Homo sapiens: one gene and its partners. The protein of the gene in region 1 interacts with the protein of each later gene in a pairwise test. Each region holds a gene or a part of one and is shown in the gene's direction. Other genes may lie near its edges.

What was found.
Region 2: the proteins of CASS4 (region 1) and ATOSA interact in a two-hybrid assay, tested with the Homo sapiens proteins (one large-scale study listed by IntAct).
Region 3: the proteins of CASS4 (region 1) and ELMO1 interact in a two-hybrid assay, tested with the Homo sapiens proteins (one large-scale study listed by IntAct).

Annotation. Positions count from the first base shown.
Region 1 is NC_000020.11:56,415,228-56,418,875, forward strand, and holds part of CASS4 (cas scaffolding protein family member 4), read left to right. Parts: intron 1-3,648. UniProt on the Homo sapiens protein: Docking protein that plays a role in tyrosine kinase-based signaling related to cell adhesion and cell spreading. Regulates PTK2/FAK1 activity, focal adhesion integrity, and cell spreading.
Region 2 is NC_000015.10:52,676,531-52,680,781, reverse strand, and holds the start of ATOSA (atos homolog protein A), read left to right. Parts: upstream 1-1,393; 5' UTR 1,394-1,954; intron 1,955-2,024; exon of another isoform or gene 2,025-2,471; intron 2,472-2,659; 5' UTR 2,660-2,760; coding exon 2,761-2,776; intron 2,777-4,251. UniProt on the Homo sapiens protein: Transcription regulator that syncronizes transcriptional and translational programs to promote macrophage invasion of tissues.
Region 3 is NC_000007.14:37,211,284-37,214,931, reverse strand, and holds part of ELMO1 (engulfment and cell motility protein 1), read left to right. Parts: intron 1-1,474; coding exon 1,475-1,597; intron 1,598-3,414; coding exon 3,415-3,546; intron 3,547-3,648. UniProt on the Homo sapiens protein: Involved in cytoskeletal rearrangements required for phagocytosis of apoptotic cells and cell motility. Acts in association with DOCK1 and CRK. Was initially proposed to be required in complex with DOCK1 to activate Rac Rho small GTPases.

The DNA of each region.
Region 1 (3,648 bases):
AGTCCTTAAGATATGTACAGTCATTCTTCACTTATGGGTCATCCATCTAGATTTGGTCCACAGGCCCTTGTGTAGCAGCCTATGTCATCTCAGTTTACGTAGGCCACCCCCACCCACCCACGCAGTACCAGGAAACACCCAAGTTGTCGACACCTAGTTCAGAGGCATCCTCAGTTAACTGTTTCTTGGGTGTCCCTACAGAAACTATCAATGCATCTATAAGATACATGTTTTAAGGTTTTACACAAATAGGAGCTGTAAGTAAAGATCTGTTGAGCTTCTTGCCTTTAGCAACTACCAATACGTACTGGTGTTCAGTTCATATTAGTGCAGTTGATCCATCTCATTAATCTTAATGCCTACATTGTTGCTCAATTGCTTTATAAATGGTAGCACAATGCTTCAAGGGGTCATGTCATGTCAGTGGTCCTTAGCTTTGGGGCATTCGCCTTTAAAACAACCCTGCCTTTCATTCAGGGCCACCGCAGATAGCCTTTCAGACCCTGAAGTTCGCCTTTGTACATCGTATGGTAAACAGGGACTGTTCTCGCAAGCTGTTCCTAATTCTACCTGCTGGCCAGTAGCTCCGTTGCCAGTAGAGCTGCTTTCACCTTTGTGCATGGCAGATTTTGTGTAATATCCAGACTGATTTATTCTATTTTTTAAAAATTGTTTTATAGAACAAGGCGAAATTTTTTTAAAACACGTGATATTAGTGATAGGAAACACTGGCCTCAAAGGTGGTAAATTTAACACCTCATTCATTGGTTTGTGGAACTCTAGCCAACTAGTCAACTCCATTCAAGAAATACTAGAAATTTAGTTTTCGTGGGTTTTTTTGAGGTGGAGTTTCACTCTGTCGTCCAGGCTGGAGTGCAGTGGCATGATCTTGGCTCACTGCAACCTCCACCTCCCAGGTTAAAGCAATTCTCCTGCCTCAGCCTCCCAAGTAGCTGGGATTACAGGCATGTGCCACCATGCTCAGCTAATTTCTGTATTTTTAGTAGAGACGGGTTTTCACCATATTGGCCAGGCTGGTCTCGAACTCCTGACCTCAAGTTATCTGCCTGTCTCAGCCTCCCAAAGTGCTGGGATTACAGGCGTGAGCCACTGCGCCCAGCCAGAAATTTAGTTCTAAAAGAACTAAAATTGTCTAAAAGACAAGGAGGATAAGTGGGCTTATTATACGTAAGTTCTTATTTTGGATTTTTGGTAGTTTCAAGATGCCTTAGTTACGAAAATAGAGTCTGCAATGTACTTTAGTGATTCAGTCCTGTTTGCTATAAATTCTGTTTACTTCCGTGTGTGTGTGTGTGTGTGTGTGTGTGTGTATGCACACATGCCATTACAGGTAATATTGAAATTAGCATCTTCATACACAGCCCTTTTTTCCCCAATAACATGATTTTCTCACTGGAGTAAATGTCCAGGAATTGAAAGAGGATTTTACTGAATGAAATAAGCTTTGGCACTTATTTTCCATCATTTTCTGAGAATTTCTGATATTTGATTCTATTTTAAACCTACTTTCCCCAGTATTTTCTCTACAATCTGTACTTTCTTTTATAAAGACAGCTATGTGCTCATTCAGTTTTCTGAAGGCATTTTTCAAGCAAGCATCTTTACTATGTTACTGAAGAGTGGATGGTCCAATATTTATACTGTAAGAACATTTAAATGTGATTATCTTTCACATTTTAAATTCAGCCTCAATTAAAGAGCAAATCTTTTTTGTCTCTCTCCCATCTCAACTCTGAGTGGCATGGTTTTGGACCCACTCAAGAAGGATCAAGGTAAAAATGTAGAATTTTTTAAAAAATCTTCCACATCTCAAGGTTGGTTTAAACACGACAAAATGTGTTGGCTTGGAAGTGTGTACCACTTGCTGGGACTTGGCTTGCTTCAGTGCTTCTGGGCAAGAAAGCCTGGTGAGGCTTCGTTTGTGAGTGGAGAGCAGTTTTAGGTTCTCTTTGTACCTTTAGCAGCTCTGAGGTGGTGAGCAAGACATTTCAAACTCAGTCTTTGTTGAAGGGCAAATGGGATTGTGTGCAGAAAGCTGACCTGGCCCTTCAGGGCCCATTAGATCCCACTCCGAGCAGCTCTCCTGCCTCAGTTCCTTCCCCTTCTCCCCTGCTGTTCCCCGCCTTGGATTCTTCTCTCTCTAGCAAGCATCGCCTCACCCAGAGGCCTCTCTGGACCACGCTGTGCAAATCACTTCCCCCCTACACAGGCCCACCGCCAACACTCTCATCTATCTTACCTTCACTTATTAAGATCTGAAATTATCTCACTTTGTTTGTTCCTCTGTCTTCCTCTCTGGGAACGAAACTCCATGAGGGACAGACCTGGGCTTTCTTACTCAGTGCTGCATCTCCGGTGCCTACAACAGTGCCTGCACAAAGTAGTTGCTCAATACATGCTTTGTGGTAGTGTGTGAACGAATGGGAGCTTACAGGGAGTGCAGGTGGAGCCCTGGCTGCAGCCCCGCTGTGAGGATAGGAACAGCACTACTTTCTAGTCAGCAGGTGTTTGGCAACGGAGGTCATTCCTGACTCTCAGCTCTCTAACCCCTACCTGGCGTCAGCCTAAGCTGCCACTCAGCCTGTTCTCTTGACAATTGTCCCCCTCCTTGTCCATGGTCAGATGTTGCCTTAGATGCAAGCTGTTGCTATTGAAATCAAGGTCACAAAGACCTGTAGCCTCCCTCCAGCATTTCCCAGCAACTTCCTCCCTTCATCTATTCCACGAGGCAAAACAGCCCAGACACAACACCCAACTCGAAAACACAGCTCACCATCCATGCCTCAGCCATTCACCCAATGCATAGTTATTGGGCTCCGGGGGTTCAGGGTGATCAAGACAGAGCTGACATTCCAATGGAGTGAGCATGACAGTGAGTAAATAGACCCATGGTTTCAGGTGGTGAGAACTGCCAGAAAGAGGAGAAAACAGGGGGATCTGATGGAGGCGATGGATGGAAAAGGCCACTCTGAACACCCAAGAGATGGGAAAAGCTTTCCAGGAAGAGGGAACAGCAGATGCCAAGGGCCTGCAGTGGGAAGGTATTCAGCATAGTACAGGGCCCCTGTAAAGACCCATGGGGTCAAAGAAGAGTAAACCAAGAGAGAGAGGGGTCAGAAGTGAGATCTGAGGTGTAAGCAGGATAACATAGGGCCTGGTCGGCCGTGTAAGAGCTTTGAAGCCATTCTAATTGCAAAGGAAACCACCAGCCCACTTAAAGCAGGAGATGACATGATCTAATTTATGTTTTCTAGATCACTCAGGCTGCTGTGCAACAGATGGGCTGTAAGTAGGAAAGAGCAAAAGCTGGTAAACGTGGAGACTTCAGTGTAGGTGGCTTCATTTTCCACTGGGGTGGTACCCTGCTCTTCTCCATGGACACGAAGGAGAATCGTGTACTCTGTCTTTAAAAAAGTAGAACTTTTGATGTTTGAGACCGCTGGTCGCCGTGTCGGGTGGGGAGTGGTTGTGAGCAGAAAAAATAGTAAATCAAGGAGTAGATAGCTTCTATTTATGTGTGTTACGTTTGATTCAGGAACACAATGTACCTTTCATTCCGTCAACAAATATTGAATGCCTGCTGCACACCAGGCACTGTTCTAAATGCTTCCAAGTCCAAGTGCCTGG
Region 2 (4,251 bases), on another chromosome or scaffold:
TTTTATAGATTAAAGAACTGTTTCCATTTGTCAGTTTCATCGTCATGATGCCAGAACATTTCAGAGAAAATGAAATGTTACCCTCCTGAATGTTCTCTCCGCTCTGATTAGATACAATCGTGGAGTTAAGGTTAACAATTTCAGTTGTACATGTTATTTTACTGTACATATCTAAGCACTAGAAAATGTTACTTTTTAAATATTTCATGCCTTTTTCATAAGAACTTTACCTGAGGCCAAAAAAATGGAACTGCCAATCTTGCAGTTTATAAAACTCTTCTGATGTGAAAATAATAGACTCATTGTAAAAAAAATTTTAAAACAGAAGGGCACAAATAAAAAAAATCCCCTTAGACTTGTCCTAATACTTTCCTGTGATCCTTTTATGCAAAATTATATCTAAAAAAAAAACTTTTTCTAATGAAACCAAAGAGCCTTGCAAATTTTTACTTGTCTCCATTTGGGCTCATGCCCCATATGTACTTTGTCTATAGACTGAGTAGCTAATAGCTGCAGCGCTTGTTAGGATTGGGTTTTTTTTTAAGTACAGCAGATTCCTGTCATCTGTTTGTGTTTAAATGACGACAACATCACAACATGAAATGCCATCATGTCACATTGCTATAGCACAACAACAAAATTACAGCTCCCCAACAATAACATGCTGTCAAAGTGTCCTCCTGCCCATGAGTCAGTGTTTTAGAAGTTATGAAGATTATTTTTAGCACAGCGAGTGTCTTGGAAGCTTGGGTTCTGAATCCTACTAAAATCCTTAGTGATTTGGGAAAATCTAGGGTGGGGGTGGGCTTCCTGTTCTTAAATTCTCCCACTCCCTGACCCGCATAGCTGCCCACCCCCCGTCCCGGTCACATTAAACCCGGGTTCCATTATGCGCTGCAATCCACTTGGGGCTCGATCACAACTCTGTGCCAGCATCCCGGGAGGAGGAGGAGGAGGAGGAGGAGGGGGGGAAGGAGGGGGAGGGGGGAGGAGGAGGAGGAGGAGGAGGAGGAGGAGGAGGAGGAGACGACGACTATAATTATCCTCCACGTCTGGGGCAGGCCTTTGGATGACATCTCCCCAGTTACCCTGCGCTCTAATAGCGCAGCTCCGATTCCTGGTCTCAGAATCCAGGCGCGCCTCTGCCGGCTGGGAGCGCAACCGAAGTGCCTGGGACGTCTCGGGCTTCCGGGACTCTGCTGGTGTCTCCCAGCCGCCATCTCCAGCGCCCTCGCACCCGCCGGGCACCTGCACCGAAAACCCGGCCCCAAACTAGCGCCCCGGGGCGAGCGGCGGCATTGCCATAGTAACCGGGCGCCAGGGCCGCGGAGGCCGCCGGGGAGGAAGTGACGACCGGGGTGGGTTGGCTGTTGTTGGGACACGTGACCTAGGCAGTGTTTTGACAGGGCAAACAGCAGAGAAAGAACTGGCCGAGCGAGGGGGACGGGGAGCCGGGGCGCCAGAGCTAGAGACAGCGGGCGGGCAAGGAGCTGGCAGAGGCGCTGGGCAAGAGGGCCGGCCGGGGCTACGGGCGGGGGAAGCCCGGGGGTCGCGGGGCTCGGGTGCCAGTCAGGCAGGGCGGAGGGGCTGAGCGCAGGGAGCGGAGCGAGGCGGTGGCTGAGGCGCGGGTGGATGGCCACAGGGGCGCCGGGGAGCCGCTTCGGGCTGGTCGTCTCGGGTCCCCACGGTCACCTGAGGCAGCCGCGGGGGCCGCTGCGCTCCATACTCCGCTCCCGCTGGCCCTGCGCCTCTCGGAGCCTGGGGTCTGAGGTGGGAGTGTGATGTGAGCTGCTGGGCGAGCGGTGGAGAGAAGTGCCAAGAGGAGGCGGGATTGGGACGGGAGAGGAGAGCGAGTTAGTCAGCAGAGGTCGGCCGAGGGAGCGGAGGAGCCGGCCAGCTCGAGAGCGCCATGAAAACAACTCTCCAGCGGGGAGAGGGGCAGACGCGGCGCTCGGTGCGGCGGGGCTGAAGGAAATCCGGGGCCGCGGCGGGACGGAAGGGGTTGTGCAGAGCAGGGGGCGAGCACAGGCTGTAAACACCTCCCCCGGAGCCGGCCGCGGAGGACTGGTTGGGAGTTGGTAGGGTCGCCCCGGGACAGCCCGGAAGAGTTCGTTTGGGGCTGGGGGCTGGGCGGGAGGAGGTGACTCGGGTTTCTGTGTAAACTTGGCCGCGGTTGCCGCAGGAAGGCTAGCCAGAGGGTAATTACACAGGTGAGGCCCGGCGGGGCGGGCGGAGGGCTCGGGAGGCGCAGGGGACTGGAAGAGTTGGCTGCGCCCAGGCACCAGGTGGAAGAATTTCCATACCAGCCCTGCGGAGGTGCCTCTGTTTCCAGAGGCGTTTTTGTACGAAGGGGTTAGTTTGTGTTGCTCAAATCTTTTTCTTCTTCTTGCCTGTACCTCCAGGTTATAAATAGATCCTGTTTTGGTTCAGAGACTGTGTCAGAAGGACACATTGGCCTGGAGAGCACAGAGGCAGGGAAGGGGGTGCTCGATCCGGAGGAGATGGGGGAGGCGGTGCAGAGAGTTTTGCTTTTTTCAGACCAGCCGAGGGTGCTGTCACCGCAGTTGGTGCCAGGAAGAGGCCTAACTTAACAGTAGTTTACTTGCAAGGTCCGGGTATTAGAATAGGGCCAGATTAATTTTATTTTTGTCTCTTTCAGCATTTTGAAAGCGAAGCAGAAGCCGTAGAATCAGCGGCGAGCCTGTTGAAAGAACCCACAGGTGCATTTCACAGCACTCTGGGCGAAAATTGGATGTGAAAATGAAGCCAGACCGAGGTAAATGATTTGTTTAAGTAGGGCTTGTTCCCCCACCCCCTTCTTTTCTATGCCTCAATTTAGAAGTGTTAACCTAATTCTGCAGTAGGATCAACTATTTCTGTATCATATGTGATTATCTGTTTTTGTGACAGATTCCAGCTGGTGAGGTAGAGAAAGGCATATGGAAGAGAAGGTTAAGCGTTTTTACAAAAGTGCTTCTGAAGCACTAGCTTCAAGAGAGATTCTAGTGTATCTCAAAATGAAAGTAAAGAATGGTATTTGTATCTGTTGCCACAATACAGGTATCATTTTAGAGTTGTACTTGCTCGTTTTTAGGTAGTCAATCTAACTTCAACTTTCAAGAAGTTCATAAGCTTTTTAAACTTGAATGTGAACTTGATAAAATGAAGAGAAAACTTAAGCTTGAGTTGACAACTGTTATTTTATTACTACTTTGATTAGTTGATTTTTGTGCTTTAAGCAAACTCCAAAAGTTTGCAGAGTACTCCAGTATTCAATATACCAGCATATGGACAGTTTGGGCCACTGAAATCCCTGGTGATAAGTAAATGTCACTTCTTTTCTAAACCTGTATTTTCAGGATTTATAAGAATAATATATACACTGCTTTTCAAGGACTTCAAGGTAATTCTTTATCAGTCTTCTGATTAATGGCAAGAACCAATTTTAGAAGATGTTAATATAGTAGTGGTTAGTAGTGAGAGCTTTTCAGTCAGATATGAGTTTGATTCCAAGGAACATTGTGAAGTGGGGATTATTTTATTTGGTAGGGGGCTGGACTAGATGACAGATTTCCTTCCAAATCCAAGTCTTTAGGATTGGAAATGTTAATTTATCCTACGAATTAGATGCTTATTTTAAAATTTATATATATTAAACTGGTTGTTTTTCCATATATTTTTTCAAAGTGATTAGACAAATTTTCTGGGTAAAATAGGTCTATTGAAATGCACCAGAAGGAATTGGAGAAAACCATACTTAATTTAGTGATTTAAATTAGTTTTAGGTGTTGGCTATTACATACAATCAGGCAGCAGCTATGTATGTATCAAGTATTAGTAAGTGTATTGCTCCTGAGCAGGTTCCTTGTGTAGAATGCCAAGTTTAGATTTTTAGATTACATCAATCACTTTGGAAAAATGGCACCAAGGTTAGTAATTGATTCTCAGAATAAACAAGCAAATAAAATCAAAGTCACTATTTATTTTGAATTGTTGTGAAAAGTTGCTTTACAGTCATAAGCAGTTTTAAAAATAGTATTTGCAGCCAAAACTAGTGTTAAACACAATAAAATGTTTAGTTACGTACTGATATAGATTTTTAGGGGAAACAAATTTATTCATCAAGATTTCCAAAGAAGTTTTCACCTTAAAAATTGTAGCTTTCTTTAGCATTCTCAGGTAAAGATGATGGGATTGTGAGTTTAGTATTGTGATTATATTCCATAATAATAACATAAACCTTTAGACCCA
Region 3 (3,648 bases), on another chromosome or scaffold:
CTGAGATATGAGTGGCATTAATGACTGTGTTCACCCTGTCTCAAAAATCAGTTTGCTTCAGTGGGACTTCTTGTATGAGATGTTGTTGATGGCTGAAGTTCGAGGTTGGTACTCTCCTGCAAGAACTTGGAGTGCAGTACTTTCGAGTTGCTAAGAAAAGAGATTCCCATACGCTTTGGATACTAAGTGTGTGCCATGAGTTAACATGCTTTTCTGAGGATTGGAGGATAAGGGGTTTGATTTGCTCCTAACCATCCGTTATCTAGCTTCCCTGCTTCCCATAATTTTGGTTTGGTGACTGTATTCTCTCATTCCTCCCTGTCCTCTTTCTTCTATTCCTCAATCTTCTCCCACCCCTCCTCCTTGAATTAGCTATTTCAGCATGGCACTGACAGCTATGGTGTGGATTGCAGGTGGATGTCAGGTTGAGAGTCACCCAGGCAGCACTCTAAGGACCTAGACTTCCTCCAATCCTGGAGGAAGATCATTTTTCTCTACAATGGGGAGCTTTGTCATTTACTGAACGGCCACTTAGAAGTTGGTTTGCAGCAGTCTGTCTACCCAGGAGCAACTACAGATTGCCAAGAGAATTGGTCTTTCAGATAACATGGCATGAGTGGGGCTAGCACAGTTGAAATAACTGATTTGATGGGTTGTTCCACCACATTGATCCATTGTTTGGCATTTTTAATGTACAGTCAGAATCTCTGTTGAAAAGGCTGTATGTTAGTCCCAAATGCTGAATGTTGAGTTGGTGGCAGCTGTCCCATTTCTGGGCAGGGGTGAGGGGATTGGGGGTGGACCTATCCAGTCTTCCTGTCCTGCCACTCCTTGTATGTTCTCTTTTCAGTTCTGTTTCTATGGGGAAAAGTCATTTTATCTTTCATTTAATTGTTAACAGTGAGTAAAGTAATTCACGAGCATTTGCTCTCTGCTTTTGATGGTAGACATCCTTGTGTAGCTCCCACAGTGGATTAAGATTTGATGGGTATTTTGCTTTTGTGTGTTCCTTCTAAAACTTTTCCCCATTTTGAAGTGGGCTCACCTGTCAGAGACAGTCCCAGGGTAAGATAATGGCAAAATTGCTTCCTATGGGTATGCATCATTGGTTTTTCTGCTGCGTGTGACAGATGCTTCCATTGTAGAAATCCACAGTTGTCTTGGAGACACCCCCATTTCAAGCACATCTTCTCTTGACTTATATGGCTGCCATCATCAGTCCCTTTCCAGCGCTTTTCCCCTTCCACTCCCTCCTGCCCACAGTAGGTTTTTTCATGGCCTGTGACCTGAAGATCAGGAACCTTACTGGGCTCTGAAATTCAAAGGAAAGCTCTGAAATTCCCTGTGCCCTCACCTTCCTTCTCCATTCCTTATACCTCCCAGTGAAGACTGTGAGAGCCTTCTTGAGTGTTAATTCTAGTTGTTTCCTTTTCTTTCTTTTTTAAAAAATTTCATTTGTGAACCATCTCCCTAGCATGTCATCCGAGCCCAGCGGGCCATCAACAATGAGATGGCGCACCAGCTGTATGTTCTACAAGTGCTCACCTTTAACCTCCTGGAAGACAGGATGATGACCAAAATGGACCCCCAGGACCAGGTGAGTGCTCATTGGACAGCAGTCAAAGCACAGGAAGGACAGAAAGTGTCATTAAAAGTCTTTTCTTGAGGTACCCTGAAACTAGGGAGTTTCAGAGTTTGATATGATGTCATTTTATTATCATCTCAGAACTTAGGGGCATGGCTTCAAAATTAGGTGAATCTAGGATCAGAAAATATACCAAATGCATTCTTCCATTAGGCTCCAAACATGCATGTTCTTTCTGCATTTATTGAATAAGAAAGTTTGATGTCACATGACCACAGACTTTAGCTCCTGGCCCCAAGTAACATTTAATAGTAGTAGCTTTGGAGTCAAGTTCCCAGACAACTAGGGCCTCTTGGTGACTCTATGTGGCATTGATTCTGTGGGGTTGAGTTAGCAATTTTCGTTCTCCAGGGATCAGTGCCAAGAGCAGGGTCCCAGATTAAACCTGATTTCTGGGCCAGCATTTCTGTCGGTTGGCTGTTGGCTGTAACTCTCTGCTGGGTCTCTTGTTGTGCATGAAAGGTTATAGCTCCATTCAGAAGGCTTTGGGGACCTTTGCTGTGTGAGGGTAGAGTGAGAGGAAACAGCTGGGAGCCCTGCCGTAGCACATTTTCAACTTAAACAGCGCTGCAGCTTTGGAAAGGAAAACACTCATTATTGGCACGTGAGGGCCTGATCTGTTGCAGATGTGAACTGCATATGTGAAGTGTGTAGCTGCCGTGGCACTTCATTCATGGAGCAAGGCCATACGGTTAAGAATGATGGAGAGGCTTTGAGAGGCGGTGAATGTGCCCCACGTTTTTGGCAAGGTGTGGTCATCCCAGGGAGAGGAGACTGTCATCTTACCACTTCTAGTGGCAGAGAGCAATGCCTCTTAATATTGAATGACATGACGCTCTTTGCTTGGAAACCCTTTTAAAAATTTATTTATGTATTTTATTGTGGTGGGATATGTATAACAGAAAGTTTACTATTTTAACCATTCTTAAGTGTACAGTCTAGTGGCATTAAGTACATTCACATTGTTAGGAAACTGTCACCACCATCTATCTCCAGAACTCTTTTTATCTTGCAGAACTGAAACTCTGTACCCATTAAACACTAACTCCCCATTCCCCTGTCCTCTTAGTCCCTGGTAACCACCATTCTAGTTTCTGTCTATGAATTTGACTACTCCAGGGACCTCATATAATTGAAATTGGACAATATGCATATTTCTGTGTCTGGTTTATTTCACTCAGCATAATATCTTCAAAGCTCATCCAGATTGTAGCATCTACTGGGATTGCCCTCTTTCAAAGCCTGGATAGTATCCCATTGTATGTCCACACCACATTTTGTTCATCCATTTACCCTTGGATGGACACTTGGGTTGTTTGCACCTTTGACCCTTTCTTTCTTTTTTGTCCTGTGTTGGTTTCCATGAAGTAACTTAGTGGGGTGAGGCACTTTGGGTGCTTCTTACTTTGTTCCCAACTGTACAGTATCCCCAGTTTCTCTAGCTTAGCTTTCTCCAATCACGACCCTTCCATCATATCTGGGCCTCTCAGTTAAGACTGCACTGGACTATCAATATTCGTGCTCCAGATAACTACTTGGCTAAGAGGACCACTGTGGAATACAGCCAGGCCTGACCAGCAGGGAGACTGACGGGGGAAGAGTGGTCTGCAAAGCCCTAACTTAGAACATTGGTTCTCTTTTATCTGTTTTTCTTTTGCCTGAATGCAGTGATTCATTTAGACCCCAGGGAAAGAGGGAGTATATGTAATGTCACACAATGAAAGCAGCTTTTTCCCCTCCCTTTTCTTTTTACTCCCTGATTCCTTCAGGCTCAGAGGGACATCATATTTGAACTTCGAAGAATTGCTTTTGATGCTGAGTCTGAACCTAACAACAGCAGTGGCAGCATGGAGAAACGCAAGTCCATGTACACGCGAGATTATAAGAAGCTTGGGTTCATTGTAAGTAAGCTATCTCCAGTATGCGCTCTCCCTCCAGCCTCCCCGGGCCTGACCTCAGCCACATAACTGATGTCTCTTCCGAGCGTGTGGTCCTCTTGCGCT